6 separate regions of the Homo sapiens genome follow, and regions 1, 2, 4, 5 and 6 are each reported to be linked to region 3. The links are microRNA targets in miRTarBase. Many come from high-throughput screens and were not tested one by one. Region 3 holds a microRNA gene; each other region holds the end of a gene's coding sequence.
Evidence for each region. The annotated mature microRNA hsa-miR-6821-3p reads UGACCUCUCCGCUCCGCACAG and lies in region 3 at 1,052-1,072, opposite strand. An mRNA with a match to its seed (bases 2 to 7 or 8) in the 3' UTR can be bound and repressed. Matches are read on the target gene's strand: a 7mer-m8 pairs with bases 2 to 8, a 7mer-A1 pairs with bases 2 to 7 and ends in A, and an 8mer does both.

Region 1: the mRNA of TLR6 is a reported target of hsa-miR-6821-3p. Seed matches in the 3' UTR shown: 8mer at 2,320-2,327 and 7mer-A1 at 2,938-2,944.
Region 2: miRTarBase lists AOPEP as a target of hsa-miR-6821-3p. The part of its 3' UTR that is shown has no 7-base or 8-base seed match.
Region 4: the mRNA of CD96 is a reported target of hsa-miR-6821-3p. Seed matches in the 3' UTR shown: 7mer-A1 at 1,535-1,541.
Region 5: miRTarBase lists FFAR4 as a target of hsa-miR-6821-3p. Seed matches in the 3' UTR shown: 7mer-A1 at 3,349-3,355.
Region 6: the mRNA of BORCS5 is a reported target of hsa-miR-6821-3p. Seed matches in the 3' UTR shown: 7mer-A1 at 3,803-3,809.

The regions. Positions count from the first base shown.
Region 1 is chr4:38,823,876-38,827,967 of GRCh38, reverse strand. TLR6 (toll like receptor 6) reads left to right here. Exons shown (of 2, transcript NM_006068.5): 2 at 1-4,092. The coding sequence ends at 885. Among named protein-coding and RNA genes, the nearest start is that of TLR1, 21 kb to the right of the region's middle. RefSeq lists an enhancer at 4,062-4,092.
Region 2 is chr9:95,081,927-95,086,030 of GRCh38, forward strand. AOPEP (aminopeptidase O (putative)) reads left to right here. Exons shown (of 17, transcript NM_001193329.3): 16 at 649-793. The coding sequence ends at 789. MIR23B (microRNA 23b) reads left to right here and starts at 3,282; the gene lies at 3,282-3,378. MIR27B (microRNA 27b) reads left to right here and starts at 3,519; the gene lies at 3,519-3,615. It overlaps MIR3074 (microRNA 3074), which reads right to left; the gene lies at 4,088-4,104. It also overlaps MIR24-1.
Region 3 is chr22:49,959,887-49,963,990 of GRCh38, reverse strand. MIR6821 (microRNA 6821) reads right to left here and starts at 1,125; the gene lies at 1,052-1,125. PIM3 (Pim-3 proto-oncogene, serine/threonine kinase) reads right to left here and starts at 3,219. Exons shown (of 6, transcript NM_001001852.4): 1 at 2,959-3,219; 2 at 2,757-2,866; 3 at 2,623-2,673; 4 at 2,180-2,549; 5 at 1,126-1,302; 6 at 1-1,051. The coding sequence starts at 3,043. The coding sequence ends at 864. RefSeq lists silencers at 1,357-1,876, 2,007-2,056, 2,697-2,746, 2,887-3,036, 3,087-3,726 and 1 more.
Region 4 is chr3:111,649,102-111,653,205 of GRCh38, reverse strand. It overlaps CD96 (CD96 molecule), which reads right to left. Exons shown (of 14, transcript NM_005816.5): 14 at 834-3,508. The coding sequence ends at 3,400. Among named protein-coding and RNA genes, the nearest start is that of PLCXD2, 24 kb to the left of the region's middle.
Region 5 is chr10:93,587,121-93,591,224 of GRCh38, reverse strand. It overlaps FFAR4 (free fatty acid receptor 4), which reads right to left. Exons shown (of 3, transcript NM_001195755.2): 3 at 1,153-4,005. The coding sequence ends at 3,616. Among named protein-coding and RNA genes, the nearest start is that of RBP4, 12 kb to the left of the region's middle.
Region 6 is chr12:12,465,335-12,469,334 of GRCh38, forward strand. It overlaps BORCS5 (BLOC-1 related complex subunit 5), which reads left to right. Exons shown (of 4, transcript NM_058169.6): 4 at 212-4,000. The coding sequence ends at 442. Among named protein-coding and RNA genes, the nearest start is that of DUSP16, 96 kb to the right of the region's middle.

The sequences.
Region 1 (4,092 bases), not on the chromosome of region 3:
GATCACAATTCAGTTTCCCACCCATCGGCTGATTTCTTCCAGAGCTGCCAGAAGATGAGGTCAATAAAAGCAGGGGACAATCCATTCCAATGTACCTGTGAGCTAAGAGAATTTGTCAAAAATATAGACCAAGTATCAAGTGAAGTGTTAGAGGGCTGGCCTGATTCTTATAAGTGTGACTACCCAGAAAGTTATAGAGGAAGCCCACTAAAGGACTTTCACATGTCTGAATTATCCTGCAACATAACTCTGCTGATCGTCACCATCGGTGCCACCATGCTGGTGTTGGCTGTGACTGTGACCTCCCTCTGCATCTACTTGGATCTGCCCTGGTATCTCAGGATGGTGTGCCAGTGGACCCAGACTCGGCGCAGGGCCAGGAACATACCCTTAGAAGAACTCCAAAGAAACCTCCAGTTTCATGCTTTTATTTCATATAGTGAACATGATTCTGCCTGGGTGAAAAGTGAATTGGTACCTTACCTAGAAAAAGAAGATATACAGATTTGTCTTCATGAGAGAAACTTTGTCCCTGGCAAGAGCATTGTGGAAAATATCATCAACTGCATTGAGAAGAGTTACAAGTCCATCTTTGTTTTGTCTCCCAACTTTGTCCAGAGTGAGTGGTGCCATTACGAACTCTATTTTGCCCATCACAATCTCTTTCATGAAGGATCTAATAACTTAATCCTCATCTTACTGGAACCCATTCCACAGAACAGCATTCCCAACAAGTACCACAAGCTGAAGGCTCTCATGACGCAGCGGACTTATTTGCAGTGGCCCAAGGAGAAAAGCAAACGTGGGCTCTTTTGGGCTAACATTAGAGCCGCTTTTAATATGAAATTAACACTAGTCACTGAAAACAATGATGTGAAATCTTAAAAAAATTTAGGAAATTCAACTTAAGAAACCATTATTTACTTGGATGATGGTGAATAGTACAGTCGTAAGTAACTGTCTGGAGGTGCCTCCATTATCCTCATGCCTTCAGGAAAGACTTAACAAAAACAATGTTTCATCTGGGGAACTGAGCTAGGCGGTGAGGTTAGCCTGCCAGTTAGAGACAGCCCAGTCTCTTCTGGTTTAATCATTATGTTTCAAATTGAAACAGTCTCTTTTGAGTAAATGCTCAGTTTTTCAGCTCCTCTCCACTCTGCTTTCCCAAATGGATTCTGTTGTGAGCAAGAGTTTATATGGCTTCATGGCAGCAAGGGAACAGTCAACTTCAGCATCATATGCACCAGTCCTCGGAGTGCCCTGTGAATCATATTGGTCTTTGGGTCAGTGTCATCATTCTCTTCAAGTCTGGGGCTTGGGGAAAAAATTAGATCAGCTACGGCATATAAAAAAGTCTTTTGTTTCACATATGTGTAATAGCTTATTTAATTTTTTATCCTGCTACACAAATATGTAATTAACCAATGAGGACTCATGACTTGATAGTGTATGTATGTAAAGGGATATATGGACTTAATCATAAGCTGTTGAGGTGAAAGACGTGGATCCACCTGCTTTCCAAGAAAACTCGGCCAAATTTATTTGCAGCTGGATATTGAATGGGACTTTTCTGGTTGTCTTAGAATTCTGGCTAAAGGCTCAAAGCTGACGAAAGACAGTAACTGCACCAACATGATACTAGACACAGCCAGTCTGGACTTATCAAAAGAGCAGAAAGAGACCAATGACTCCCAGTCCGTATTATCCATCTCTAGAAGACTAGAGTCAAAAGCGTGATTAAAGAGTCATTAAGCGGAGGTTCTAGGCCATAGGGAGATTGCTTTGAATTTCTTGCAGACAAGTGTGAGGGACTCAGCATGGTAGAAGGTAGCCTGGCATCCCACTCCAAGACTGAAAGCTTGCAGAGTAACAGGAGCACACAGGTTCAGTGCAGCAGATGTGGTGTGGCTTGAGAATTCTTGGAAGAGCTTGATGAGTGTTTGCTGGAGTCCGAGGGTGGGCACTGGGAACACAGAGACTGGTAAATAGTGTTTGGCAAATACAAGTGCTTGATGAATATTTGTTGAATGAATAGATGAGTTCTTCCCCCCTGGGGAATTCAGGAGGTGAAAGGTTGGCTTGAGCACCCAAAATGGCAGGATGAGAGAAGAGAAGCACTGATAGCAACCTGCCCTCCCATTATTGACATGGTAAAAGGATGTGAATTTCTTCACATGGCTTTGACTATGGAAGAGTAGCTGGGCTTGCATTGTCATGACGGGATATCAGCCAACAGGGTAGCCTGTTGTGCAAAGAAACTATAGCAGTAAGAGGACACGGGGTTAGGCAGAAGAGGGGTTTGGGGTGGAGGTTGCTGCAAGAGGTCAGCCAGATAATGTGGCCCTGCATCATGGAACTGTGCAATGTGGGGTACACTCAAGGCCCTCCAATAACTCACAGATGTGCCCTATGAAAAAGCCAGCATTTGGACTCTGCCATAGCAGCTGGCAGGATCATGCTGGCCTGTCTGCCTTATTCAATAGTTAACTACAGGAAGATCTGCTCCTCTTTGTGTAATACCCTCTTCCCTTGCAATGGCATAGGGACATCTAGAATATAGAGAAGACAGAGACAATGGAGGAAGAGTAAAGAAACTGACTATATGCCTTCGTCATTTCACTGCAAGGAAGGCCAAGCAGATTTTTGAATGAGGTGTGAGATTGCTGTTAAATTGGACTGGCCTGGACATTTTAATCCCTTAAATAGAGGTGCAATGACTAAAGTGAGATTTGTCACTAAAATTTATGGTATCTGCCCAAGATTCAGGAGTGATGATGGGAGGAGATCCAACAGAACTTTGTTGTAAGGCAATGGTTAGAGAAAAATGAAGCCCTCGCTTTCTGGACTTAGTTCATTCAATAAACCAGTTTCGGCCAGGCACGTTGGCTCACATCTATAATCCCAGTACTGTGGGAGGCTGAGGCAGGTGGATCACTTGAGGTCAGGAGTTCGAGACCAGCCTGGCCAACATGGTGAAACCCTGTCTGTACTAAAAATACAAAAATTAGCCGGGTGTGGTGGTGTGCACCTGTAGTCCCAGCTACTCGGGAGGCTGAGGCAGGAAAATCACTTGAACCTGGGAGACAGAGGCTGTAGTGAGCTGAGACAGCGCTACTGTACTCCCCGCTGGGCAACAGAGTGAGACTCCATCTCAAAAAAGTTAAAAGAAAAAAAATCTGGTTTCATAATAGCTGTAACGAAATAAGCCTTAATGATATTTTATTAGCATCATCTTCTGTCTGCATTAGCCCTTCCTTGCTCTTCAGGAGAACAACATTTGTTTTCCTCCCTAGGCTCTATCCCAAACGGCACATTCTTCCACAACCCCTGTTGAACAGATTTTTTAAACTGTTGCCTAATCTAAAAACAATAAAAACAACAAACAACCACAGTAACAACAACGACAAAAAAAACTGCCACAGATTCTAAATAATCAGATCTTTTTAAATGGTATCAATGTTTCCCACAAAATATTGTTGACATTGAAAATATAGAATTTTAGCATTAATTTTGTTAAACCTACATCCCCTCGGCAGAGGGGCCTCCCTGCATCCCAGTGGAAAGTAGGTTCCTCACAGTCCTCTCCGTCACATTCTTCCCATTTCTTTTCTTCACAGAACACATCACTGTCTAAAATTATCTTGTTTGCTTAGTTGCTTACTCATCTTCTTCTTCTCTCCTCTGAAGTCTAAGCTCCAGGAAAAAGGGAGACTTCTCCACCTGTTCCCTGCCTCTCCCCAGTGCCGAGGGGACACTGTGCACCCCATTGTAGATGCGCAGTAAAAACTCGTGGGATGAGCAAATGACTCTGAAACGGTCCCATGCGGGAAATGTCCATGAAGTCCTGGATTTTATCTAAAAAGCCCAGGCAGGGGGGGGCGGGGGCGGCGGGGCTACAGTTCCACGCTGAGCTGCCTCCTGGCCGCTCGTCCCCGCCGCAGTGCCTGGGCGGCCCGGGCGCCCGACCTTGGCCGTGGACACCTTCGCGGTGGGTGCTGCTCCTCCCCATCTGCCACTGGAAGATGCTGGGGCGACCCGGCTCCAGGTTTAGCAGGACACTGAGAAAAGGGAATGGCTGCCTTTCGGAGGCTG
Region 2 (4,104 bases), not on the chromosome of region 3:
GGTCTTCTAGAACGTCCTTGGCTATTTTAAAAATACAGGAAAAATGCAGATGTGAGTGTTTGCGGCATTGTTCCCAAGCAGCAGAGCCGGTGCGGGCTACGGTGCAGGGCTGTGGAGGAAAGGGCGCAGGCGGGGTGGGCGTCTCTGCGGGCATCGTGATGTGTCTCTGCCGCGGCTGCTGCCTGCTGTGCTCTTTGCTTCCCTGGCAGGTGAAGGACTTCCCGGATGAGCTCAGACCAGCTACTCCTAGGGACACACTTTGCGGGGCAGGAGTCCCGTGTCTGTAATGCCACACAGGCTCTCCGCGTGGTAATTCTGGGAACCATCTCTGTCTGTTCAGAGCGTTCCTGACACGGCCATCATGGTGGGAATGCCTGCTCATCGTTCTGTCACCAGTGAAATCGTCAGAGTCTGTGTAGAGAATTGGGAGCTGAGGATTCCTTGGGGTTTTGAGTACAAGGAGGAGACAGGGATTGCAGACTGCAGCTTCCAAAAGCACAGTCAGCCCACGGCCTCTGTCTTCTCTGGGGTCTTTGCAATTTCTAGACCAGCAAGTGTGTGTGGAACAAGCACAGACTGAGCTCATGTGTGCGTGTGTGTGGGTACCCACACCTTCGCCTGATGCCCTTTGGCCTCTGTGCCCTGCAGGCCATGGGTGTGTACCTCTACGGGGAGCTGATGGTGAGTGAGGACGCCAGACAGCAGCAGCTCGCCCGTAGGTGCTTCGAGCGGACCAAGGAGCAGATGGATAGGTCCTCAGCCCAGGTGGTGGCCGAAATGTTATTTTAACGAGGTGATTCTCTCCCTTTCCTTTCTGTCATTTAGTTCTAACCAGATACTCCTTTTAGGAGCCAACTAAATCAGTAAGCCGAATAGTTAGCCAAGACTACCCGCAGCATCAATAGTCGGCTCCCTGGCCCAGGGCCTGGAGAGTAACTGGCCAAGTGGGTGCTGGGCTGGTATGGGAGCCCCGGGTCCCTGGAGCACCTTGCCTGGCTGTGGCAGTCACCGGGAAGCAGAGGCTGTCCACCTGGAGGCACAGCGGCACTCCTTGGCACTATTTTGGCCACTTCAGGTTTTATAATCTGTTGAAACAAAAATTGTGGGGGAACATCTTGAGTAGGTTTAGAGATGGAATGGGAAGCCTGGCAGAAGCGCTGGTCCAGTCTTCAGGGTCACGGCTGATACAGGAGTTTAAGCGGCCGTGTGACTCCAAAGCCTAGCTTCTGCAAGCAGATGTTTTCTTCTAGCCATGTGTGAATTGGAGGTTCCTTGGGCTGTCCACGCCTGGTCATCGGCTGGCAGGAGGCTCTCCAGGCACACGCAGCACACACAGCACATGCACCACACGTAGCACACACACTGCATGCAGCACACACACACCAGAGGACGCACCACACAGAGCACGCACAGCACACACCACACAGCGCACGCACCACACAGAGCACACGCGGCACACACAGCACACACAGCGCACGCACCACGCAGAGCACACACGGCACATGCAGCATACACACCAAACAGCGCACGCACCACACAGAGCACACGCGGCACACGCAGCACACACACCACACAGAGCACCTGGAGCACCCACAGCACACACACCACGCAGAGTACACGCGGCACACACACCACACACAGCGCATGCACAACACAGAGCACACACAGCACATGCACCACACGTAGCGCGCACACTGCATGCAGCACACACACCACACACAGCGCGTGCACCACACAGAGCACCTGCGGCACACACAGCACACACCGCACGCACCACACAGAGCACATGTGGCACACACAGTGCACGCACCACACAGCACCCGCGGCGCACACAGCACACGTGGCATATGGCCTCCATGACCCTGTGTCTTGAGGGCAGGTCCTACTTTTTGCTTTGTTGTGTTGGAGCGGAATTTCTCCCCTGGCTTCTATTGGAGTCCTAGATTATTTAAATCACTTCCTCTGTTAATTGTGCCTGGAATTAACCTGTTAGATTTACTTCCTAGCAGTTAGTTGCTCAGTATGGGTTTCTACACTATTAAAGCAACCTAGCGGTAGTACACAAGGTTTTGTTAGGATAGCTGTGAGATTTTTTTTCTCTAACAATCATCATTATTTCTGTGTCTGCTCCGTTTTTCTTCAGTGTTTTATATGATATTAATAGGGGATGTCTAATTTTGTATCTTTAAAAAAACTTTATCAAATCTGAAGCATTTTTCGTGTTATAGCTTCTCTATAATTTTTCATGGATATTGAATATTTGGTGTTGATATTCTTCACTCAGTTTTGAACATTGAGTTTTCTTCTAATGTTTTGTGCTTATGAAAACCATTTCTGTGTAACGTGTTTAAGTAGCTTATTTATCTGAAAGAACTCTAATAATGAAAAGAAATAAAAAGTTTTTCAGAAGCATGATCATATTCTTCCAGAAGAGTCAGGAACCATGTGTGCCAGGAAAGGGAAACGGGACTGAGCGTCTCGTAGCGAAACGCCTGCTGCAGACTTGACGCGGCTCCCCTCCAGGACGGGCTGGCGGCACACAGACTGTGCACTTACCTCACTGCCGGCCTCATAATAGTAATCAGTGTAAATGGTGTTTCTCTTTCGTTTTGTTATTTCGTGGCGTACGTGTTAAAGTGTGTGAAACTACAAGGCCAGCTAGTCCTTTCATCATTCCCTTTGGTGCAGGTTTTGGAGCAGCACCACAGGGCACACCCCTCGCCACTCTTTATGGGGAATTTTTGCCCAGGCAGGCAAAGGAGTCATCTTGGTCACAAGTCTCCCTTTTCCCCCTCCCCAGCATCTTCGATCCTGTCCCCACCCCTCCAGATGCATCCAGGGGTTGCAAGCCTGCCCCCCAACCAGTCCCCGTGAGGAACAGTGGCCGGGATTGTCCCAGGGCCCCTTCCAGCAGGGGGACCTCCTGACTTGAGAGTCCCCAAAGCCTTCCCAGGGCAGCTAGAATCTGCCTGGAGAGAAGGGATCTTGTCCCCAAGGGTTAGAGGCAGTAAACTAATAGCAAGGACAGCTGCCTTTAGCAATTGTGTGTGTCGCATGGCCGGTCCCTGCATTTTTCTTCAGTTCCAAAGCTGCACTGGCATTTTTATGGTCATCTCTGGAGTCCCTTTGATTCAAGAAATTATACCTCTAGGATGCCAACTAAACGAACAACAAACAGAAACTCCACCTGTTTGCTAGCATAACAGGCGTGAAGGCGGCAGTGTCGCCGGCGTCCTTCCGCGGAAGCCCAGTGTGTGCAGACAGCACGGGGTGGCGCTGCTCTCAGGTGCTCTGGCTGCTTGGGTTCCTGGCATGCTGATTTGTGACTTAAGATTAAAATCACATTGCCAGGGATTACCACGCAACCACGACCTTGGCTGCTCCTCCAGAAACCGTGGTCGCGCTCACTGCAGATTGGAGAACAGGTGCATCTCGTAGCTCTTCTTTGGAAACAAAAGAAGCCACCAGCTGAGGAAGATGCTCACCGGTCACCGTCCCTTTATTTATGCCCAGCGATGACCTCTCTAACAAGGTGCAGAGCTTAGCTGATTGGTGAACAGTGATTGGTTTCCGCTTTGTTCACAGTGGCTAAGTTCTGCACCTGAAGAGAAGGTGAGATGGGGACAGTTAAGTTGGAGCCGCTGGGGCAGAGGCCGTTGCTGACGGGCCGGCCGCTGCTGCACAGTCAGCTTGGGTGCGGAGCGCGATCCTGGAGGATGAGAGACCACTTGACCCCAAGGATGCACTGTCTCCTGCTGGGAATGCTAGCCATGTACTGAGTCCTTAAGTCTGTCCACAGAAACATGCACTAATCGGACATCTGTCTGAAAGGTCAAATGTATTGAAAGTTGCAAAAATTCTTCTTACAAAAAACTAAAACCAAATGCATCACCTAAGTCGTGTGAAATCATGTGGTAGCTCATGGCTGTGAGCGGGGCGGGGCGGGGCTTTCGGAGGAGCTCCTGTTGTTCTGGGCGCGGTGAACTCTCTCTTGTATTTGCAGTCCAGGCCTTCGCGTCTCCTGCGCCAGCAGACGGTGCCCACGGAGCTCCCAGCTGAGGCGCTGCTTCTCCGGGCTGTCGATTGGACCCGCCCTCCGGTGCC
Region 3 (4,104 bases):
CCATCTGCGATGCCTGCACACACCGCATTCACACAAACACAGGTACTGAATAAATTAAACGCTCAGGCTCTGGCCCCACCCCAGCTTTCAGAGCCCACAAGCAGACTGTACAAAGTCAATAATTTAAAACCCAAACCCTGGGCACAGTGCCTGGAAGTGTCAGGGTCACCCACTCCCCTTAAGTTAGCCACTATACATGTTCATCTTCTGACAGGCGGGGCCGGGACAGACGCCAGGCACAGGAATCAGGGCCTGGGGTCCCTGGACCACAGCCACCCCCTCCCCTGCCTCCCCACTGTCCCCTGGGGCTTGGGAGAGGCAGACTGCTCAGAGGAAATAACCTCAACAAATAAATTAAACAATAAATAGCCCCGGTGGGCCGAGGGCACCTCCAGGGGGTCACACCATAAATAACAGAGTTGGCGGCGGGTACGGCTCGCGTGGGCGGGCGGGCGCGGAGGCCAGGACTTGCATTGTGTGTGCAGGACGTGCCCAGACGCACACCGCAGGACTGAGGGCGGGAGGTGGGCTTGGGACCCTGCGCCGGCGGAAAGAGCTCCGGGTGGGCAGGCAGATGGGAAGGCCGCCTCCGGACACAGCAGCACAGAGGGGCGTCTGGGGTTCAAGTATCCACCCAGGGCAGGCGGGACCTCGACCGGAGCGTCTTTGGACAGACAGAGCTTGAGAAAACCAAGTCCCGCGGGACCAGCGTTCAAAAGGCACTCAAAGCGAAGGTCACCAGGGGTCAGAGGTCACTGCTTCCGCAGGAGGAGACGGCCCACGCAGGAGAAAGTCAGGGTCTGGGGGCGTCCCAGGTCTGGCCAAGGCAGGTGGTCCCCTAGCTCCCAGTCAGGTGCAGCTCCTCACAAGCTCTCGCTGCTGGACGTGGTGCTGGCCACGTCATCAGGGTCGAGGGTGCACAGCCGCAGGTCACAGCTCTCCGGGACGCCCCCGTCAGCCCCCAGCATCCAGGGATGGGCCGCAATCTGATCCAGCGACGGCCGCTCTGAGGGCCGCAGGGACAGGCACCACCGGATCAGCTGCTGGCACTCTGTGCGGAGCGGAGAGGTCAGGGAGGGCCCAAGCAGGGCGAGGCCCCCACCCCCGCCTCGAGCCACCACGCACCTGGAGAGACCCTCCTCCGGAAGAGCAGGCGGCCTCGGAGGATCTCCTCGTCCTGCTCGAAGGGGATGTCCCCACACACCATATCGTAGAGAAGCACGCCCAGCGACCACACGGTGGCCGAGCGCCCGTGGTAGCGGTGGTAGCGGATCCACTCCGGGGGGCTGTACACTCGGGTGCCTAAGGGGACACAGGGCTTAGCACGCCCACCACAGAGGCAGAGCCGCTCAACAGACGGCGAGGTCCCTGCTGGTTAACTCCCTGGCCTCAGTAACAGGAAGCAGAGCCAGGCCTCAAAATCCTGCTCGTCATCACCCTGGAAAAACCCCGGCAGGCGATGGGGGGGCTGGGGGAGGGGCCGGCCGTCCCCCTCCGCCGGCCGCGGGGGAGGAGCAGGTCACATGAGTAAGAGCTCGGCTTTCACAACAAACAGATGCGCTGTGAGGCTACCTGGGTGGGGGGGGGACAGCGCGGGTCCCTTACCGCCCGGCGCGCCTGCCTGCGGGAACGGGGGGAGGGGAGAGAGGGAGGGAGGAGGGAGGGGCGGGCGGGGAGCCCCGGCTTCCCCAAGCTCCGCAATGCGGGGATTTCTGCCGCCGCGCCCCCGCGCTCCGCACGCACGCAGCTCCCGCCCCCACGCAGGGGAGGCCCCGCCACTCCAACCGCGCCGCGGGGGCCTCCAGGCTCCCGGCGCAGACCCAGCCCGGCTGCGCCCTGCGTCACGCACGGAGACTCCTCCGCTACCGCCCCCAGCCGGGGGTCTCTCGGGCCGGAAGGATGTCACGCGCCTCCCACACCGGGGCAAGAGGCCCCGTACCCCCCAACGCGATGGAGGAAGCAATATTGAGCGCGCCCCTAGCCCCCACCCAGCACGATCCCGCTCTTGATCCCTCGCTCAGCCCTCCCCAGGGTAGCGCGTGGGCCTCTGCTCCCCACGAGAGCAGACCCAGGGCGCGCGGCCGCCCAACAGTCATCAGCCCCTCCATGTGCCGCCCCTGCAGGCGTTAACCCGCCGGCAAGGCCCCCGGAACGTTCCCTGCCCCGCGCCCGCGCTCACCGTCGAAGTCGGTGTAGACCGTGTCCTTGAGCAGCGCACCCGAACCGAAGTCGATGAGCTTGAGCTCTCCGGAGCGCAGGTCCACAAGCAGATTTTCGTCCTTAATGTCGCGGTGCACGACCCCGCAGCTGTGGCAGTGGCGCACGGCGGCCAGCACCTGCGCGAAGAAGCGGCGCGCCAGCGGCTCGTCCAGGGCGCCGCGCTCCGTGATAAAGTCGAAGAGGTCCTGCGCCGGCTCGGGCCGCTCCAGCACCAGCAGGAAGCCGTCGGGCCGCTCGAACCAGTCCAGCAGGCGGATGACGCCGCGCGCGCCGCCCGCCGCGCCCACCTTGCGCAGCAGCACCACCTCCAGGGGCACGGTCGCGCCGCCCTGGGGGACACGGCGGTCAGCAAAAGCCCCGCGCCCGCCCCCCGCCGCCGCCGCCGCCCGTGCCCCAACTTACCAGGCTGCCCCACTCGGTCACCCGCTCCTTCACCACGTGCTTCACAGCCACCTGCGGAGACGCGGGGGTCAGGCCGGGCCAAGCGAGGCGCAAGGCGCGCGAGAAACCCGGGCCCGCCCGGCGGTCCGACTCACCGGGAGCCCGTCGGCGATGCGGCTACCCGCGTAGACCGTGCCGAAGCCGCCGCTACCCAGCACGGCGCCCACCTGGTACGCCTTCTCGAAGCTCTCCTTGTCCGCCTTGGCTGCAGGGAGGCGCGGGCGGGGTTGGTGCGGCCCGGGGCGCCCCCGGTCCCCGCCCTGGCCCCGGCCCCGGCCCCGCCGGCCCCGCGCGTACCTGGCTGCAGGATCTTCACCGGGAGGTGGTCCACGCCGCCGGGCCCGCAGAGGTGCGCCAGGGAGCCGAACTTGGAGAGCAGCATCGCGGGCGACGGCCTCCCCGGAGCCCCGAGCCCCAGGCGCCGAAGCCGCGGCCGATCCGGGCGAGCGGCGCGCCGGGGACACCGGCCGTCCGAGCCCGAGGCGGTCCGCGCGGCGCAGTGGGCCCGGAAGGCCCGCGGGGACCGCGTAGACGCGCAGCAGGCGGAGCGCCTCACCCGCCCCGGCCGCCTCGCCCGGGGGTTTTGGGCCGCGGCGCCGCGTATCCCTCCGCGGGGGCGGGGCGAATCGGGACCCCGCCCCCTTCCGCCCGGGGCCCGCGAGGCGGCGGCGGCCGGGCGCTAGCTGGGGAGACGGCGGGGCAGCTTGGCGCCTGTCTTCGGGCGGGCGAGGGCCGGGTGCGGCGGGCGCGGGGCCGCTCCGGGACTCGTTTTCGTAGCGCAGCCGCGGAGGCGCACGGCGTGTCGCGTCGGTCCGCTCTCCGCGCTCACGCTCTCACTCCGCGCAGGCGCAGTGCCCGCGCGGGTGGCGGCCGTGGCGCCTCGGGCAGAACGAGGAGGGACTGCACGAGCCAATGGAAGCCGGAGTTTTTAAAGAAATCCGGCGCCCCAGCCAATGGCGGGGCGAGCCGTTTCCTGGCTCCGCCCCCAGCAGTGCCTAGGAAGGTCACCCGCCGGCCCCGAGCAGGGTTCCTGGGGGTGTGGGAGTGCGGGAGGCGACCTGCGCTTGTCCCGCGGCCTCGAGGTGACACACGCCGCCAGTCTGCGTCCCCGGCTGTCTGCGCATCCCGTCGCGCACGTGGCCGGGCGCGCGGGGAGGTAGCGCCGGCTCCTCTGGAAGCCCTCGCAGCGGCAGCGCCCCCAGCCTCGCAGCCCCGGCGGGGGCCGAGAGCGCACCTGGCTGGAGATGCTTCCTCCTCACCCTGGGCTCTGACCTCACGCCCGCAGCCCGAGGGCCCTCCCTGGTACCTCTGCCCTGCTGGCCGGTGCCTGGAGTGGCCCCGCCCGACTCCTGCCGTCTGACACGGTCCTGGCTGCCCTCCGGGCTCTCCAGCAGCTGCTGTCCACCTCCACCAGGGAGCCCACCTTGATTGCTGCGACAGCCG
Region 4 (4,104 bases), not on the chromosome of region 3:
GGCACAGTAGGCTAGTCTGAAAACGATCTTCTCATGGTGATGGTAGAAAAGAAGAGAGTGAATCCAATCATAGAAGTACTTTTCAAGCCTTGGGTTAGTCGTGCCCATGATATTCCATTGCAAAACAAATCATGTTATCAAGCTGAGGAGTTCTCCTGGTGCAGGTGGGTAAGGAAACGAACATATGAATAACAATGTTAACTAACACATAGTGCTTTGGAAATGAGTGACAAACATGCGTACATATGGCTTTTTCTCAGTGAAAATGAAACTTTAGGGATTAGGATCTAGTATTGCTATTTCTCCTATGAGACAGAGCTAAATTCACTAACAGAGACAGGAGTTGCTGGTTGAGTCAGACTCTATGAATTTACTCGCACACAATTTAAGGCTCAAATGAAACTGTCATTTTAGTCAAATAAGGGTGGTCAAGCTCACAGTACTAACTAAAAGGCAACTGGAGCCCCTCTAATTTGCAGGTTTGTGAAAAGTTCCTCTGAACTACTCACTGAAGATCCCTCCATTGATAAGCAACCGCTCACTCTATTCAAGTGGTAATGAATGTGCAAATGCTGACCAGAACTTAATTACGATACTAAAAGAGTGTACTTCAAAGAAGAGCTAATATAAAAACACAGAGAGACACCTGTCATCTGATAGATTGATAAATTACATGAATTTATGTTATACTGTAAAACTGTCTCTCCCTTTAGTGAAACAATCCAAATACCTCCAACTCTGCCACTCTCTACTCCTAACTCTGCCACTCCCTACCCCCACTTTCTGCTTGTATTCATATATTATAGTAAAACAGTAAAATAAAACCACAATGCTTTGTATACAAATTACTGATGATTAAGTCTTGTTAAATACAAATAGCCATACACATGAAGCAAAGCAACAGCCATACATATGAAGCTAGCATTTGTTTCTTGAGAACTAATAAGGAACTAAAGATAAATAATTAAGGCAGGTAAACAGTTTATTTTTCTAGTTGTTGAGCTGTATAGTTATCTGTCGCTATGTAACAAATTATACTCAAAATTAATGGTGTTAAACAATAAGCACTTATTATCTAATAGTGTTAGAAGTTCAGAAATTTAGTAAAAGGCTTAGCTGGGTAGTTCTGGCTCTCTTGAGGTCTTGGTCAAAAGATCAACTGAAGTTGCAATTATCTGAAGACTTGACTGGAGGCTGGAGGATCTGCTTCCAAGATGGCTCCCTTACATGGCTGGCAAGTTGGTGCTTGTTAGCAAAATACCTTAGTTCCTTGACAGGTAGATTTCTTTCTTTCTTTCTTTCTTTCTTTTTTTTTTTTTTTTGAGGCGGAGTCTCGGTCTTTCACCCAGATTGGAGTGTGCAGTGGCACAATCTCGGCTCACTGCAAGCTCTGCCTCCCGGGTTCCCACCCTTCTCCTGCCTCAGCCTCCTGAGTAGCTGGGACTACAGGTGCCCGACACCACACCCGGCTAATTTTTTGTATTTTTAGTAGAGACGGGGTTTCACTGTGTTAGCCAGGATGGTCTCGATCTCCTGACCTCGTGATCCACCCACCTCGGCCTCCCAAAGTGCTGGGATTACAGGCGTGAGCCACTGCGCCCGGCCACGACAGGTAGATTTCTCAATAGGGCTGCCTTGGTGTCTTCATGGCATGGGAATGGGCTTTTCCCAGTGTCAGTATGGTCAAAGAGAGATCAAAGAAGAAGCCACAGTGTATTTTGTGACCTAGCCTTGGTCACTTCCAAGCTTTTTTGGCTATACCAATGGTGAGAGTGGTACTCATTCTCAACATTGTGCAAGTGCATGACCCTGAGTGTGAATACCTCCTTAAATTTTTTCCCTAGGTGCATTGATTGCCTCCCCTTAATCCTGGCCTCAGGTTACACAAATCATCTGTATTCAGCATTGGAGGGGACCACATAAAGATGTGAATAGTAGGAGGCAAGAACACTGGGGCTCATCTTGGAGGCTGGCCACCACAAGAGTTAAGCACCTACCTAAGATTCTGAGCCATGAGAAAGAACTTCCACAGGCTCGATGGTTCTCAACTTTGGCTGAACATGTGAATCATTTGAGAGTGTTGATGCCTGTGTCTCACTCCTCAGACATTCTGATTTAATTGAACTGAAGTGTGACAGCCATGGTGTTTAAGAAAAAGACATAATCTCCAAATAACTCTGCACAAGGCATTCTCATGTGCAGTCAAGGATAAGCATACTGCAAGTGAACTAAAGTTTCCTTTTGGGACTAAAGTCCACACAGAATTTGCCTATCACTCTATCTGTCAACAACATCTGTTTTTCCCTCCTGGAGCAGGGAGTGTGGGAAGGTTTCAAGCGACAAGGAGGATTAGTAATTTATTCATTCACAAACTATTGCTGAATACAGAGCACGTCTGGCTGACTAGGTTTCTTCTCTGACACCTATACATTCTGCTTCAACTGCTTTAAAAAAGATTGGTAGGAGCAGGGTTAATTAATCAGTGCTGGTCTGATTTGAGGCTCTTTATCTTTTTCAAAACAGATCAAAACAGGCAGATTAAATGAACAGGTAAATCCCCAGATGAAAAAGAGAATAACTGGAATTAGAAAGTAGGGTTGGGCTTAGGCTGCCTGTTTACTTACAAAACAGTTTGGTTCCAGTTTGATGGACATACACACGAAGGCACTCAAATGAAACCACTCTTGGCTAATATAATTTTAGAGGCCAGTGGAGTTTTGTATCTTCTAGGCTACTGGGTTTTTGGCTAATTATCTCTTTGATCCCTCTTCATCCTGGTCCATGTGGCAGGAGTCTGGGCTGAACATGGTAGGAAGACAGTGAAGGAGGATTGAAAATGTGGTTCCTGTGCAAAGTATTCTGTTTCCTTCCATGAAAATAAGCAACAGAATTTCAATATGAAGACTAACCATACTTCTCCATTACTTGGCAGCCTTGTTAGCACTTTTACATTTTCTTTTTCCTGTAATTATCTTAGGGAATGCAGCAAAGCCCCAGGATTTTGGCAAAGAGTTTACAATGTTGATAGATGTTCAAATAAGAGGATCAGGCATGGGCATACAGTTGAAACCATTGTTGTCCCTCCATCAGAGAATTTAAATGAAAATACTGTATTTTTTTTTAAAGATGGCAGACTAATATGTACTTCTTACATAAGCAAGAAAACCACTACGAATTGCATTGAGTGTGAACATGACATATCCTCTCACTCTTGGTTAAGCTTCAGGCGTTTGGAGATGGAAGAGGGTGAGTTGCTGGGAAAACAGGTCACTCACTTCTGACTTCCATTTCAGCTGCAGCAAAGGCATGGCTGAAGAGCGACTATATTAATAAAGCACAATGTCTACCTTCTCAATAGGATTCCAGCAGAGTTCTGCCATGGGGCAAAGTCTCACGAGACTAGAGGGTCTCCATCTCATGATAAGGCAGATCACTTTCGTTGGGCTCTTGAATGCAAGTGTACTTGATGGGAGGTGGTGGTGGCTTGAAAGGTGGAGGTCTTTCCATTCTAGGAACAAAATATTGGTCTTTCAATGCTAAGAATTGAGGGAGTCTTATGCACACACACACACAGACATGTGTTGTTTCTTTAAAGGAGAACACAGATTGATGAGAAAGAGACATACTCTCCCAGTTCTTTCAGCATTTTTGCTGGCATAACCCTGTGCCTGTTAGTCACATTTGAACCTCATGATCTATACGGTATTTTGTAGTTTGCAAAGAATTTTTATCATAACATTATTTACTTTGTATGTAGAAATTGCCTCACCATCTACAGATAAAACTGAGCATTTTTATCATAACATTATTTACTTTGTGTGCAGGAAATGTATCATAACATTATTTACTTTGTGTGCAGGAAATGCATCACCATTCTACAGATAAAACTGAGGCTCAGAGGTTTTAAACAACTTGCTCAAGAGAACCAGACCAACAATTCAAGTCTTTTCACCAGAACTGATACTCTCCATGACAACTGCCTCCTAATAGAAGAAATGTTTCTTTTATGTGGATTAAAATATTCCTCCAGAGACTAAATCTTAAAATCCTAGGATTTAAGACTGAAGCTTTTCATACAGCCTCTTTGCTAACCCTAGCCCCAGC
Region 5 (4,104 bases), not on the chromosome of region 3:
GTGCAAGGCCACTTGCCTCAGTTTTCCAGGCGTTCCCAGGGGCCTCCATTTCTCATCTTGAAAAAAGCAGCAAGGCTTTGGTACCAGAGGGTCTTGGTGTAAGTGCAAATCTGCTTCAGATATATATTAGCTGTGGATTTGGGGCTGGTTACAAGGCTTATCTGAGCCTCACTCTTTTCTTGGGAGATAAGGGAAAATAGTCCTTGCCTGATGGGCTGCAGTGAGGATTCAATTAGGCAATGTCCCTTAGAGCTCTGGGGAGCTGTGAAACCGGTGATGCCAGGCTGATGTCTATGAAATGCACTGGGAGTGAGGAAAGGGTCACAGATCTCCGCCTGGGTGTTGGAATATCCAGGGACCGTGGGAGGCTCCCGGGGGCCCCATGCTAGTGTTCTCCACCAAAGACAGAGGAGACAGGTGATGTGCATGGGAGAGCTTTGCCTTCCTCTCTCACGGAACCACAGGCTGTCAGAGCCTTGCTCCGCAGCTTCAGTTTGACAACCTCAGAGAACCATAATGATATAGGAGTTAAAAAGAAATTACTCGGGCAGATAGTGAGGGTATGGAAGTCCTTGGTAAGATTTTCCTTTTAATGAAAAGCAGCCCCTAAATCCTTTTCTAACAAAAAGCAGCTGTAAAATCGTGCTGCAGACATAGACAAGCAAGTTGGAAGCTTGCATGGGTGAATGCCAGCAGTTGTGTCCATTGGAATGTACTACCTAAGACTAAGCATGTTCAAAATGGCGGCTCCGTCTTCTCTTTTTGCCAGCTATGAGTGCAGTAAGGAGAAGACAAGATGGCCAAGTGGAAAGTCCATTTGCATAATCAGATTTGGGTGGGGTGGCCAGCCTTTCTCGTGCACTACGTAAACGTCACACCTGGTCAAACCAATCTGTGAGCCCTATGTAAATCAGACACCACCTCCTCAAGCCTGCCTATAAAATACGCTGTGGTCCACCACTTTTCCCTTTTCAGATGCCTCTGTCTCACGAGAGAGAGAGCTGCTCTCCTCTCTCCTTTCTTCTGCCTATTAAACATTCTGTTCCTTAACCCACCCACATATGTCCGTGTCCTTAATCCTCTTGGCGCAAGATGACAAACCCCGGTTATTTACCCCAGACAGCAATGCCGCTTCAATAAGATAGCCACACATCACTTCCAAAAACAGGTTTAATTGATCAAATCTATTAACTAAAGTGAGCAAAACATCTCTGTTCGTTTGTCTTCGAGCTTGTGATATCCATGAATCTGACTTCAGAAGCAAGCTGCTCCAGAAACTGCATAAGCAGTCACTACTGCTGGTGCTGATTTCCTCAGCAACAAAGATTTGTTGAACACCTACTATACACCAGGCCCCGTGCTGCTGTGCATTCCAGCCACTGGCCCAGCCTCCAAGTGGTGGAGTGACCCTGGGTTCGGTCTTTGGCTCTGGTTTCTCTCTATCTCTCCAAGGGATGTATTATAAAACCATAGGTCTATAAACACCATTTATATCTCCAAACAATGTGCATCTCCAGGCCCAAGCTCCACATCTCTGCATCCAACTGCCTATTCAATTTGGAAGTCTCACTGAGATTTCAAACTGATGAGCTCCAAATGAAACTCTTGGCTCCCCCCCCCCTAATCTTTGCCCAGGCCCCCCCATTTTTGTTGCCTGCTTCACCATCCAACCAATGACAGGCTAAAAAATCAGAGTATTCCCCTTGAGTTCTCCCTTTCCCTCACATTCTATCAATTCCATCCTTCCCATCAATAAATCATCTTTGTTTTACCTTCCCAAGGTATATTTACAAGTCATTTCTCACAATCCCTCCCTAATGCCACTCACCTCCAAGGTCCCATCCCCATGTCACACTTCAGCAGCTGCCCAACTGGTCTCCATTTTCACTCATGCTCCTCAGAGTCTATTCCCTGCCCAGCAGCCAGGGTAATCTTTGCACACATTCATCAGGTCACGTCAGCCTCCAGTTGCCAACCTCCAGGGGCTTGGAGAACAGAATAAACTCCTAGGCCCTATGTGATCTAACCCTGCAATTTCTCTGGCCTCAACTGACAGGCCCCAGCCGGGTACCCCTCATCTCAGCATTAAAGGCAGTGCCTAGTGCAGAGGAGGCTCCATCAATAGTCGGCTTACGCCACTCTCCCTTCAAGCGTGTCAGCCTCCTTGCACTAACATCTCTTCTGTGTCCCTTCCCCCATTCACACAGGTGGCCCTTTCTTGTCGCTTACCTTTTGATCCAATTTGTCACTCCTCAGAAAGGTCTCCTTAGGCCCCTCCCCATCTGATCTAAATTCCCATCACTACCATAGCCCCCGTCCCATTTTCTTCACAGTGCTTATTCGCTCTGTGATGCTATACTATTTATTGACTTGTAGCCAGGCGTGGCGGCTCACGCCTGTAATCCCAGCTACTTGGGAGGCTGAGGCGGGAGGATTGCTTGAGCCAAGGCATTTGAGGCTTCAGGGAGCCGTGATTGTGCCGTTGCACTCCAGCCTGGGCATTGGAGCAAGACCCTCATCTCAAATATATAGGTATCTGTATATAGATATAGTTTATTGACTTTTATTTAGTTTTTCTGCCCCTGACTCGAAGGTAAGTTCCCTGAGAGAGGGCCATGGCTGTCTGGTTCACCACTGTATTCCTAGCACAAAGGACACTGTCTGCCATGGCTGGTGCTTAAGAGGCATCTCTGCTGGATGCGTCAGGAGTAAACCACTCCTGAACTCACTCTCAAACATTTCAGAGCCATCCTACTTTCTCTCTCATTTCATGATGCCGATTCTCTTAAAAGGGTCCATAGCATTTTTATAAATGAAAAAAAAAAAAAAGTAAGTCATCTTTAACTGTTCCTTAGAAATTCTTCAATTGCTCTTGACATCAACGAATGATCCTAAACCCTTGCGAGTCCAAGGTAGGGCACAGGGTGGCTGTGACCCTTCAGAGGAGAAATCTGCGTCCTGAATCGGTTCTAAGACTCACTTCAGAAACCACTATGGTGTGGCTTTATATGTAGGAGATGTGATTGCTGAACAGTCATAAATAAATATTTATTAAATTTGATCATATTACAAACACACTAAAAAAGTTCACATTTAAAAGGAACCCATAACAAATCTTTTTTTTTTTTTTTTTAAGATGGAGTTTCACTCTTGTTGCCCTGGTTGGAGTGCAATGGCACGATCTCGGCTCACTGCAACCTCTGCCTCCCAGGTTCAAGAGATTCTCCTGGTTCAGCCTCCCAAGTAGCTAGGATTACAGGTGCCCACCACCACTCCCAGCTAATTTTTTTTTTTATTTTTAGTAGAGACGGGGGTCTCACCATGTTGGTCAGGTTGGTCTCGAACTCCTGACCTCAGGTGATCCACCCACCTCAGCCTCCCAAACTGCTGGGATTACAGGCATGAACCACTGCACCTGGCCAACAAATCCTTTTATAAAGGGAAAATATTATGAAACTTGGTGATCACCCCTTAATTTACCGACGCTGTGGATGTCTATTTGCATAGGTTCATTTTCTTAAAGCAGGGTGCACTGATGGAGGGTACTGGAAATGAACTCTGTTTAAAAGCATGCCACAGCTCGCCAGGTGTGAGAAACTCGGCTATAAAGAAAAATTAGCCAGAAATAATCGACAAGTCATTTCTTTTGACAGATGTGTCTGTTAAAATGGCTCCCTTTTCTGGGAACCAGAAGCAGCAAAAAATTTTCTTCCACTCATTCCTGCACAGTGTCATGTTGTAGAGGATGGGGTTTAGGGCTGAATTAGCAAATGTGAAGGCCACCACCCAGAAGAAGAGGGACGGCCAGATGACCAGGTCTTGCTTGAAGTTCTGGATCAGGATGAGGAGGATGGTGATGATGATGGGGCTCCACATGATGAAGAAGGAGACCATGAGGAGGAAGAGGGTGCGGAAGAGCCGGAAGTCCTGCTGGGACACGCGGATCTGGTGGCTCTCCGAGTAGGCCAGGCTTACCGTGAGCCTCTTCCTTGATGCCTTTGTGATCTGTGGAAAACCAAAACAGGACTGGAGCCACAGGTGACCGAGGGTTGTTGGGGATTTTGAGTTAGGGGCCCAAGAGTTGGAATCTGCTATCCCCAAGGC
Region 6 (4,000 bases), not on the chromosome of region 3:
GTCCCCTCTCAGTTCTCTTCTAAAGGTGGTTCTGGCACAACAGTTGATAAAGCTGTGTCCCTGAAGGGCTTTTTAGCCCTGGGTGCTTCCTGTAAAACTTGTCAGCTTCCACTGGATCTGCGGGACTGTGTCCCTCACAGGCTGGACACCCGGCCCTGCGGAGAGGACTTGATTAAACAAGGTATAATGTACTTCTCTTTCCCATCCACAGATGGATCTGTCTGTAGAAACTCTGTTCAGCTTCATGCAGGAGCGCCAGAAAAGATACGCCAAGTATGCCGAGCAGATCCAGAAAGTGAACGAGATGTCCGCCATCCTCCGCCGCATACAGATGGGCATCGACCAGACTGTGCCCCTGCTGGACAGGCTCAACAGCATGCTGCCCGAGGGCGAGCGGCTGGAGCCCTTCAGCATGAAGCCCGACCGCGAGCTCAGGCTGTAGCTGCTGCCCGGCCTGCCTGGGGCTGGGAGCCCCAGACACCGACACCCTGAGGACGTGTGGAGCTAAGGTCATATCATCTGACCAGGTCTGGAGGCTGGCGGGAGGCTCCCTGAAAGTGGGTGCGAAGGAGTCCGGCTGGCATGAAAATCTGACTTTGCCCAGCTCTTTTCCTTGATGCAGTTTCCCGGTGTGGAAGGAACCTAACCAGTTCTCGGTGATAACTGAAGCTGGAACGTGTGAATTATTAGGAATTCTTTGAAGAACTCTGCATTGAGAATTATTTTTATTTAGTTTTTTTTTTTTTTTAATTGAGAGTATATAGTCCAGTCCAGGTACCGGAATAAAAATATGGAGACAAGGGGAAAATATTTTACGAAGCTCTGTGTTCTCAACGCCCTCATGAACTTTTCAGTAGGCTGTCTGGTTTATGTGTGGTCAACTTGAAAAACTAATTGAATCTAGGTCTCTGTATTGTTCCTGTTTCTACCCTGACTGTTTCCGTCACACCAAGCCCTTATCTGGGGCGCGTCTTCCTGCCCAGGTGGAACACTGGCATTTTGTTGACTGTCAGGTTAGGTGTCCCTTAGTCGTCATCAGAAGCTGAAGCCTTCCTTTCCACACCCTCATCAGATTCATCTCCACTGATAACCGGTTTCCTTGATGCAGACATAGTTTAGCTTTCTTTGACTGCAGAGATGTCTCATTCCACAGACATTTCTTGAACCCATTTGATGTGTCCAATATTGTGCCAGGGATACAAATATGGCCGTATAGCCTCAGGCCTTCATTTCTGAAAAGAAAAAAGCTCAAAAAGCTGCTGAATTTCTCTGGGAGTTTAGGAAAGGAAGTTATTTGAGTAACAACAAAAGTGCTTAGTGTCGTACTTTACACATCATAGGTGTTCTAATGGAAGCAAGGACTGGAGAAGCAAAGAGTGGAATGTGAGGAGCAGACCTAGGCAGACACCTTGAGACTAAAAGTCAGAGCTGAAGGGAGTCGCTGGGGCCAGGACGGCATGCAGGCCTGTACCCTGTTCCCTAAGTTCCTGCAAGCGTCGGGAGGTGTGTTTTCAGATACCAGAAAGAGCCTTCAGTAGATTCACAAGATTAAAATTGATGCGCTTAATTTAATGTATCTTGGCTAAACTTGATCTGATTCTAATCTTGGTTTGAGACAGGGTCTTGTGCTGTTGCTCAGGCTGGAGTGCAGTGGCGCAATCATAGCACACTGACTCCTCAAACTCCCGGGCTCCGGGGATCCTCACGCCTCAGACTCCTGAGTAGCTGGGATTACAGGTGTGTGCCACCAAATCCAGCTAATTAAAAAAAATTAATTAATTTTACATTTTCAAATTCAAAAGAATAATACAATGAATATTCATATTTCTTTCACCTAGATTGACAAAAAGTGGTATATTTAAGACATCACCATCATTGTCTTTCTTCTGGAGTATACAGAACCTGGTTCTGAACACAGGGATATGTTTGTAGCTTCGAGGAATGAAGGGCTGTTTACAGAGCTACAAAAATAGCTTAGGTGCCATTATCCTCACTGCACTTAATACAGGTGACACATGAAAGCACAGAGTGGGTGGCAGTTCAAGCCTGCGAGGGCCGAGCCTTTCCACTGCTGCAGCTGTTAGTGGCTGGCACAGGGCAGGATGGCAGACCTAGTGCAGCACAAACAAACCACGCAGTCAGCCAGCTCTCCAGCCAACTGTGTCTACTTCTAAAGTAGAAGTTAGACAAAACATGGGGTTCACTTAGACTGGGGTCCTGAGTAGGTGATAGGCTACTTATTACTGGGTGGAAGCGGAGAAGTATGGCAGAAGAACAATAGGCAAATTCAATACTCCCGGAAAGAATTCTAGTTAGTTTAATATTTTGATGGCATGTTGTGGTTTCTGCAGTGTCGTGAACTTGGCTAAACTGAACTGTGTTCCCAGAATTCCCTTCCTTGTTTGTTTCTCTGGTGAGGGTTGGCCACGAGAGAGATTTGCATGAGGTTTGGAAGTGGAAGTAGAGCAACAGCCATGTGTATTCACTGGAAGTGGATGTAGGTCAGGCCCTGTTCCATCACGTGCACGTTACCATGGATCTCCTGCACTTGTGGTGTGGGCAGCCGCTGGGCCCACGGCTCCTCCCACTCCCGCAGAACTCTGCCTTTGGCTTTTCCAGACCCTGGGCCGGGTATGAGAACCAGCTTCTTGGTCTGCAGCCACAAGGATGAAGGTTTGGGGATGAGAGACCAGCACGGGCTCTGATGAGAGACAGGTGCAGGTCCCAGCTTGTGGCTTGCAGGTCTCAGTCGTACTTGCTCTCCCTCACCATCCTTTCCAACCGCCTGGCCTGTGGTCTGGTGAAGAAGAAACAGCCGAACCGAGACTTTCACCAGCCCCTCTAATTGCTCAAACCGCTTTCACAATCCTCTCTTTCTACATCATTCCTAGTGGTTCTTTTCTGATGGAACCTCTGACTGGTAACATGGCATTACCAGTCCTTTCCCTCTCATGTTTTGCTATTTCCTGATGGAACCTGGGAGTCTGAGTGATTTGTATTTCAAGAAGCAGTTATGCTGGATCTCTTTGTTGGTTAATACCCCATGACCTATCTGGCCGTTATGGGATATTTCAGGGATAGGAGTTGTGAAAGAGCCCTTGGCTGGACGTTTCTAGCCTTAATCTTTGGCAAGCCATTTCATTTCCCTGAGCCTCAGTTTCCGCCTTCCTACAGCGTGAGCAGGTCTGGGTGGGCTCTCAAGCCCCTTTCAGCTCTAAGATTCCAAGTCTGTGATTCCGATACATCTTGACTACAATGAGCGTGTTTACCTTTTGTCTCTGAGCAGTGGCCCTGGGTCTTGGTAGTGACTAAATTCCGAGCTCCCAAGGTGCAGCTGCTTTTCTTCCTTTTAATTATAAATTAGCTGTTCATTGGCTGCTTCTTTCTAGAGCCTGTTTTGCTTATCTTGCAATCTGTTCATTTCTGTTGATGAACACAGTCAAATAGGCCTCTATGTGCAGTCTCCTGGTTTCCCTGGTCAAAGTGGAAGGTTGGTAGAAACTGGCCTTCATGTCTTTGTTTCCCTCAAAGTTTTATTCTTAGTAACGCTATATATGGTTTTATAGACCACACATATATAGTTTCCTGTGTCTTAGATGATAACATCCTTAAAATATGAAATATATTTTGAACCTAGATACCTACCCAGTATTCTCTGCACAGAGTAAACATTTCATTAAATGAGTTTCAAGGACTCCATACCCTGATATAGGAGTACATTCAAGAAATGAGTTTAGGCCGGGCGCGGTGGCTCACACCTGTAATCCCAGCACTTTGGGAGGCCGAGACGAGTGGATCACCTGAGGTCAGGAGTTCCAGACCAGCCTGACCAACATGGTGAAACCCCATCTCTACTAAAAAAAATACAGAAATTACCCGGGCATGGTGGCTGGTGCCTGTAATCCCCGCTACTTGGGAGGCCAAGGTGGGAGAATCGCTTGAACCTGGGAGGCGGAGGTTGCAGTGAGCCAAGTTCGTGCCATTGCACTCTGGCCTGGGT